Homo sapiens: one gene and its partner. The protein of the gene in region 1 interacts with the protein of each later gene in a biochemical or structural test. Each region holds a gene or a part of one and is shown in the gene's direction. Other genes may lie near its edges.

What was found. Proteins that work in one complex are often made in the same cells at the same time.
Region 2: the proteins of NF2 (region 1) and SPTBN1 form a complex in vitro, tested with the Homo sapiens proteins (2 studies listed by BioGRID and IntAct).

Annotation. Positions count from the first base shown.
Region 1 is NC_000022.11:29,601,523-29,605,265, forward strand, and holds the start of NF2 (merlin), read left to right. Parts: upstream 1-2,110; 5' UTR 2,111-2,476; coding exon 2,477-2,590; intron 2,591-3,743. UniProt on the Homo sapiens protein: Probable regulator of the Hippo/SWH (Sav/Wts/Hpo) signaling pathway, a signaling pathway that plays a pivotal role in tumor suppression by restricting proliferation and promoting apoptosis.
Region 2 is NC_000002.12:54,454,252-54,457,994, forward strand, and holds the start of SPTBN1 (spectrin beta chain, non-erythrocytic 1), read left to right. Parts: upstream 1-2,075; 5' UTR 2,076-2,267; intron 2,268-2,479; exon of another isoform or gene 2,480-2,714; intron 2,715-2,915; exon of another isoform or gene 2,916-3,056; intron 3,057-3,140; exon of another isoform or gene 3,141-3,236; intron 3,237-3,457; exon of another isoform or gene 3,458-3,552; intron 3,553-3,731; exon of another isoform or gene 3,732-3,743. UniProt on the Homo sapiens protein: Fodrin, which seems to be involved in secretion, interacts with calmodulin in a calcium-dependent manner and is thus candidate for the calcium-dependent movement of the cytoskeleton at the membrane.

The DNA of each region.
Region 1 (3,743 bases):
CCCTGTGGGGAGCCCAGAAAACCCAGCCCGGTTCTCCCACCTGCGGGGAAGAAATGAAGCAATGATAATGAAGACACTCCCATGCCAAGCCCATACTGCCCTGAGCAATCAGTTTTGGTGGGGAGAATTTGCTAGCAGAAGGCAGGACATAAAGTCCCCACAGCAGCCTCACTGGGTGTGGCAGCAAATCATTCCTGAGGCCTGGCCGGTGCTACCAGGCACAGCAGGGGTCCGTGCAGAAGAACTAGATTTATTCCATTAATATACCGTTACAGCAACAATGTCTGCTGAGTACTCCGGAACTGTAATTCACATTTCCTGAGGCTGTAGTAGGGAGAATTTGGAAGCAGGGCAGCACAGTGCTAACCAGCAGGCTCTGGGTGGGACAGACCTGGGTTTGAGTCCTAGCTTTGCCTTTCACTATCTGCATTATAGTCAGCGAGTGGCTCTATCATATCTCTCAGTATCTTCACCTGTGGAGTTGGGGGGGTGATGCTAATGTTAGCTAACATTTATGGGGTGATTATTGTTGTTAAAACTCAGTACACCGGGCGCGGTGGCTCACGCCTGTAATCCCAGCACTTTGGGAGGCCAAGGTGGGCAGATCACCTGAGGTCAGAAGTTTGAGACCAGCCTGGCTAACATGGTGAAACCCCGTCCCTACTAAAAATACAAAAATTAGCCGGGCGTGGTGGCGGGTGCCTGTAATCCCAACTACTGGGGAGGCTGAGGCAGGAGAATTGCTTGAACCCGGGAGGCGGAGGTTGCAGAGAGCCGAGACCGCCCCATTGTACTCCAGCCTGGGCAACAAGAGCGAAACTCTGTCTCAAAACAAAAAACAAACGAAAAAACACAGTAAATTGTCCCTATTTGACTACTAAGAGCTATTTTAAAATAGAATTTATTATCTAAGTACAGAAAGGTGTAATTATCCCCCCTACACCCGTTAGAACCCTTGATGACACTAAATAAATAATACATGAATACGGTTCAAAAATGGGCATCATAGAGTATAAAATAAAGAATGCTTTCATTTTCAACCCAAATTCAGCAATTTCATAGGATGCCAGGCTCAGCTCTAAAGCCTTATATGTATTCAGTGCGCTGAAATTCAACAACCTCACGAGGTAGGTATAACCAATAATAATTCTAGGCGGGGCGTGGTGGCTCACGCCTGTAATCCTAGCACTTCGGGAGGCCGAGGCGGGCGGATCACCTGAGGTTCGAGACCAGCCTGACGAACATGGAGAAACCCCGTCTCTAATAAAAATACAAAATTAGCCGGGCGTGGTGACGCATACCTGTAATCCCAGCTACTCGGGAGGCTGACGCCGGAAAATCGCTTGAACCCGGGAGGCGGAGGTTGCAGTGAGCCGAGATCGCGCCACTGCACTCCAGCCTGGGCAACAAGAGCGAAACTCCGTCCCAATAATAATAATAATTAATAATAATAATAATAACAATAATAATAATAATTCTAAAGGGAAGCAGAGGGATCTGGCGGGAAAGTGCCAGCAAACCTAACAGGCCTCCACAAGTGTCTTTAAAGTTTCATAGGGGTCGGTATATGTGATTAACTGCCAAAGAAGAATATTCGCCGTGTGTCCGAAACGCAGTCCCCTGGGGCGCCACACTCGGAGCCTACTTGAACCGAAGAGTCCCTCCCTGGGCCAACGAAGGACCCAATTCCCCTCGCCCCGGATCCAGCCTCTAAGTGGTTTCCCGGGTAAGGTCAGCAGAGGTCCGCCGCCTCAACCAGTCTTGTTAGAGTAGGCACAAAAGCATTCAGAGTGACTGCCACTGTAGCCACTCAACGCCGAGCCTAGGCCTGCTTTTTTTGCAGTTAGAGTGAAACTTTCCATTGGTGGAGTCACCCCAAAGGAGGCGGGACGGAGCGGGAAAGTCCTGCCTACCTTGGCCTTCCCAGCCAATCGCAGCATCTATGCGTCAGCCTCCGGTTCGGTTGCGCTGCGCGTAGTGGTCTGGGCGACCTGAGGGCGGGGCCGGGAGCAGGCCCCGGGCTGTGGGGAGGGTGCGCTTCCCGCGGGCGCGCGGAGTGAGGACGGTGACAGCCACGCGCGCGCGTACGCGCCCGATGCAGCGCGGCCCCGTGACCCTAGTCGGCCGCTGAGAGGCGCGCGGAGTCTGGGCCGCTGCCGTCTAGGGGTCCCGTCCCGAGGCGTCCCCGGCATCTCCGGCCCGAATCCCGGAGTGCCGGGTCGCGCCTGCACCGAAGGTCCCGGCTCCTGTGCCCTCCCTGCAGCCGTCAGGGCCCGTCCCCCAACTCCCCTTTCCGCTCAGGCAGGGTCCTCGCGGCCCATGCTGGCCGCTGGGGACCCGCGCAGCCCAGACCGTTCCCGGGCCGGGCAGCCGGCCACCATGGTGGCCCTGAGGCCTGTGCAGCAACTCCAGGGGGGCTAAAGGGCTCAGAGTGCAGGCCGTGGGGCGCGAGGGTCCCGGGCCTGAGCCCCGCGCCATGGCCGGGGCCATCGCTTCCCGCATGAGCTTCAGCTCTCTCAAGAGGAAGCAACCCAAGACGTTCACCGTGAGGATCGTCACCATGGACGCCGAGATGGAGTTCAATTGCGAGGTAACCGGCCGGCAGCCCCGACTGCTGCGGTGACAGTCGAGGTGGAAGCTCGAGAGGTTCTCTTTATATCATCTTATGGGTGTAGCTAGAGACGGGCAGAACCGGAAGGGCCAACTAGGCCCAAAACCTCATGTTAAAGATGATTGCTGCTTTTTTTCATAGGACTTTTGGGTTTTGGCATTTCCTGAAGGTTATTTTCATTCATTGTTATTGGAAGAAGCTGGATGCTCCTGTGATAGAAAATTCAGGATTTCAGTGTCAGGCTTAAGTTAGGCTTACGCTTAAAAGCTTGAAAGTTTATTCTTTCATTAGGTAATATTGTTATGTACCCAGGTATTAGAAGTTGCGTCTTGTTTATTGGAAAGCCAATACTTGTTTCCCTTTTCTAAAGCTTGCATATTCTGGGAAAAAAAACCCTTTGAAGAACGATATAACATCTCATACTTACTTTCCACATAGTTTCCAACATGATGATAACAGCTATCAATTGTTCAGTATTTTCAAAGTGCTAGACATTTGCACATTTAATCCTCAGAACAAACCCATTTATCTAGTAAATGGCAAGGTGGGGTTTTGAACCAAGCTCACAGCCCGTACAGTACTGCTTCTCAAGTAATTTAAGTTCTTGCTGCTAAAAGTGTGGTTTGTGGACCAGCAGCATTGGCAGCAGTAAGCAAGGGTTGGCATGCTTTTTCTGTACAGGACCACATAGTAAATATTTTCAACTTTGTAGACTAGAGAATCTCTGTTGGAGTTATTCAACTCTTCAACTCTACCATTGTAACACAAAAGCAGCCTTAGATAAGATCAGCTTCCAGCATGACAGCTTAAGGAACCCATTCCTCTGTAAAACTGGTGAAAATTCTTTTTTGTTTTGTTTCGTTTTGAGACAGAATCTCACTCTGTCACCGAGGCTGGCATGCAGTAGTGTGATCATGGCTTACTGCAACCCTGACCAACCTCCCTGGCTCAATCAGTCCTCCTGCCTCAGCCTCTCGAGTAGCTGGGACCACAGGCGTGTGCCACCACACCTGGCTAATTTTTTTTTTTTTTTTTTTTTTGAGACGGAGTCTCGCTCTGTCACCCAGAGTGCACCGGGCTAGAGTGCAATGGCGCGATCTTGTCTCACTGCCACCTCCACTTCCAGGTTCAA
Region 2 (3,743 bases), on another chromosome or scaffold:
ATTGTGATGCAGGTATTTACAGTAGAACTCTGAATCCTTGTCTTTCACATTTTTGGAATAATTACTGGGGCTTTACTAGAGTACCTTGCTAAGGTGTGTGTGGCCTTTTTTTTTTTTTTAATTAAAAAACAACGTAAGTGGGAGTGGAATGGGGTAAGGGAGGTGAATCATTCATCAAATGAAAATTTATTTAAATACCGTTGTCTGTGATAAAGGAATAACCATTTCAGAATAACACTGGAAGAATTAATTTAAATGGATGCACTTCCCAATATTGTTACTGTTTTCTTTGGTATTTCATTAACATTGTGAGTGGGGAGGTGCTGGGGTCCATGGTAAAAAAATAAGTAAGTGAAAGGCAAACAACTTTGCTTTCTAGTGGATTTCCCTTATTACCTAATGAGGGCAGCAGCTTACAAGTTGATTGTGTTCAATTCAACAAATTTGTTTTAGTACCTAAGTGCCTGCTATATGTACAGAGTGAAGAAAGAAATAACCCTACCTTTAAGAGAGTTTACGGTCTGGTTGTGTTGATTCACCTTCTGAGAAAAAATGTTATTTGCTTTCCTCAATTTTTTTCCTATCAAAAGTAAACATAGGTTCAAACATTCAAACCTATGAAGGCCTAAAAGGAAGAATCATCTTCAGTTTGCTGTGACGATTTCACTGAGTTTTATTTTAAAATATTCATTTAAAAATACATACAAACATATAAACCCATCAGGCCAGGTTCTAGTGATCTGAGATATAAGCATGATACAAACTACTTGGCTGCCGTGTATTTTTGTTTTATTTTAATCCAGGTGATCAGGTCTGTATGGGGAAAAAGCCCTGGGGCTTTTTCAAACAGGAAGGGCCCTCCTCCCTCTGAATGCCCGCAGTGCCGCCCTGTGCACTTTACAGAACAAGGAGAAAGTCAGTTTCTTCAAACTGCTTTTCTAAAGAGCGTTTCCATTCGTGGTCCTGGTGATTCCACCATCTTTTCTTCACAACAGTGACGGTTCTGGAATTTCTACACAGCCTGAGGGGCTGACGGGGTAGACCAGGTGACTGGGAAGGGGCAGTGGCACATGACAAAAATTTGAGGAAACGTCCAGTTTCCGTTTCAGGGAATGCGCATAGGGGAAAACGCAAGTCCCCACGCCATCACGGGGCCCTCCACCGCGGCCGGACGACCCCTCTCTCGGGAGTGACTGGGGCAGGGCACCTGGCCTCAGGTTCGAGCGGAGCCTGCACTGAGAGGCAGGAGTTGGATGAACCACTTGTAGGGTCTGCTCCCAGCTACCCAAAGCGAAAGGGTGGGCGAAAAAGCATTTGCAAAAGAATACATTAACCTCACAAGGAACGACCCCCACCACCCATCCTCCAGCGCCCAAGGTTTCCCACGAAGAGGTCGCCGTCGCCCTTCTCCAAGTTGGGTAGAACCTATAAGGCATCACCAACTGCATCTCAAACCAACCAAGCAAGTGACGCTCCAAAACCTCCCTAAATACCCTCTCTCCCCAGCATTCCGAACGCAACATCAAGGGCGAAAAGAGGCTGCACAAATCACGTAGAAAATTAGACCGCCTCTTTCCATGGCGATAATCGAATTAGCCTCAAATTAAACGTGAAATTGGCCCTCTCCGGCTGTGGAGACAAAGCCCCTATTGTCCTGCTCGGGTAGCGGCAGCAGCAGTGCCCACCCCGCCCCGGCCAGCCTGGTCGGTCCCCGCCGCTGGGAGGATGAGGTCCGGGCTGGACCCGGGAAGAGCCTCAGCTGGAGAGGACGTGGACGCGCCCGAGGCTCGGCTCCCTGGGCGGCTGCGGGGCTCCGGGCAGGAGGAGAGGGCGGGCGAAGCAGAGGGAGCGGGCGGGAGTGGGGAGGGAGGAGTGCGGAGGGCGGAGGGCGTGCGGGAGGGATCCCGGGAGTGCGCTTGTGTGTGTGTGCGCGCGCGCCCGCCCCGCGCGCTCCTCTCCCCGCCCCTCGCCCCCTCCCTGCGAGCGCCCTCCTCTCCTCCTCCCCCCGCCCCCCGCGCTCCCGCCCAGCCCCCGGAATCAGTGCCGCTGTTGCCGTGCAGGCTGCGGATTCCTCCAGTCCCTCCCTCGGCCGCCTCTCCTCCCGGAGCGAGCGCGCAGCCCTGCGCAGCAGCGCCCACTGGTCCCGTCCTGTGAGCCCCGGCCCCAGCCGCGGACAGACCCGCGGAGTCGCCTCCCGGCCCACCCGCCCGGCCGCCGAGGAGCGGGAGGAGGACGGGACCCCGGCGCCCCCACCCCATCCCCGGGAGGTAGGTAGGGGGCCCGAGGCAGGGAGATGCCAACTCACTGGGGCTGCCTCCCGGGTGGGCTCCGCGGCGGCGGACGGGCGGGAGGAGGGGCGCGGGCCCAGGGCCGGAGGACGCCGCTGCCCGCCTGCCCTGCGCCCGGGGAGCCGCGTGGGGGCAGGGAGGCTGCAAAGCCCGGGCGGGGGCGGCGCGGGGAGCCCGGGTCGCGGGTGCTCATTGGTACTCGGATGATGCGGGACGAGGGGCGGCAGGCTCTGCGGTGAGGCGGCAGCAGACCCGCCGTGCGCACCGCTGCCGTCCGGCCCCAGCCCCGGCGCGGCGCGGCGATTCCTCCTCCCTGCCTCCGCCGGCGCCTCCCTGCAGCCGGGCGCGGCGGCCCCTGACGCGGAGGCCCCTGGCGCGGAGGTGGGTGCGGAGCGGACAGCGGACAGCCGGAGGGTCTATTTTCAGGTGCCCTCTCTGTGGCCCCGCGGGTGGGGAGCGGGGGCGGCGGTGACAGGGCCGGGCTCTGCGCGTAGCGGTGCAGGGGATGCGGCCAGGCGTGGTCCCGGCTGCGCCGCGCTGCAGCTGAGCCGGAGGCGGCGGCCCCGCGCCCCCACCTCCGCCCCATCCCTGCGCTTGCTACCCTCGTGCGCCCGCCCCCCCCCCGCCCTTTCTGCCGTCCCCACTCTCCCAGGGCTGGGCGTGAGCCGCCTCCGGGCGCCGAGCCGCCGCTGCGCCCGCCCTTCAGCTCCTGCCACCCTCTCTTCAACAGGTTTGTCTCAGCGCAGGGACCCTCCGGGCCTGCTTTGGGTAGGTGGGCTGGCTCGTCATCACCCCCCACACCACGCCCACGGCCCTCTTTTAGGGGGCGCCTTCTCTTTGTTTTTGTGATAGGAAAGGTGCCAACTGCTGCCATCAGATGAGGAGGGGGTGGGGATCAGAACGCAAACCTCTGTCCATTATTTTTCCAATCGAAAGCCAGGCCAGATAGTAAGTGAGGACAGGGTGCGTGTGGGGGTGCTTCGGCGGAGCAGAAAATTGAATTCGGTGGGGTTTATTTGGGCGGGGATGTGCTTTTTTGGCAAGATGGATGGCTCACGGTGCCCTCGCCGTGATGCAGCACAATGCAGCAGTATCGCAGCTTCCTTGGTTCTCGCTGGCGGGGCTTGGCACGGCCGCTCGGCGCCTGCGGCCCCCGCCCGGCCCCACCCAGGCCCGGGGCTGCCCTTGGCCGAGGCCTGGAGCTGCTGCTACCTTGTCCTGCAGCTTCTGCTGGATGTGGCGTCAGGAGGACCAGGTCAGCTAGGTGTGAGCAGGGGAGAGTCTTTTCTTTTGGGATGATCCCTCCTGCACCTCTTCTTGGGCTGCGCTCTGCCGGAGGGGCGCCCTGCATCACCAGTGCAGGCAGAGGGGAGCCGGCCTGTGGTTGCGGATCGGAATCTGATCTGCGACCAGGGGACCTGAGCCATAGGGAGGGGCTGCAGGAAGGACTGGGCC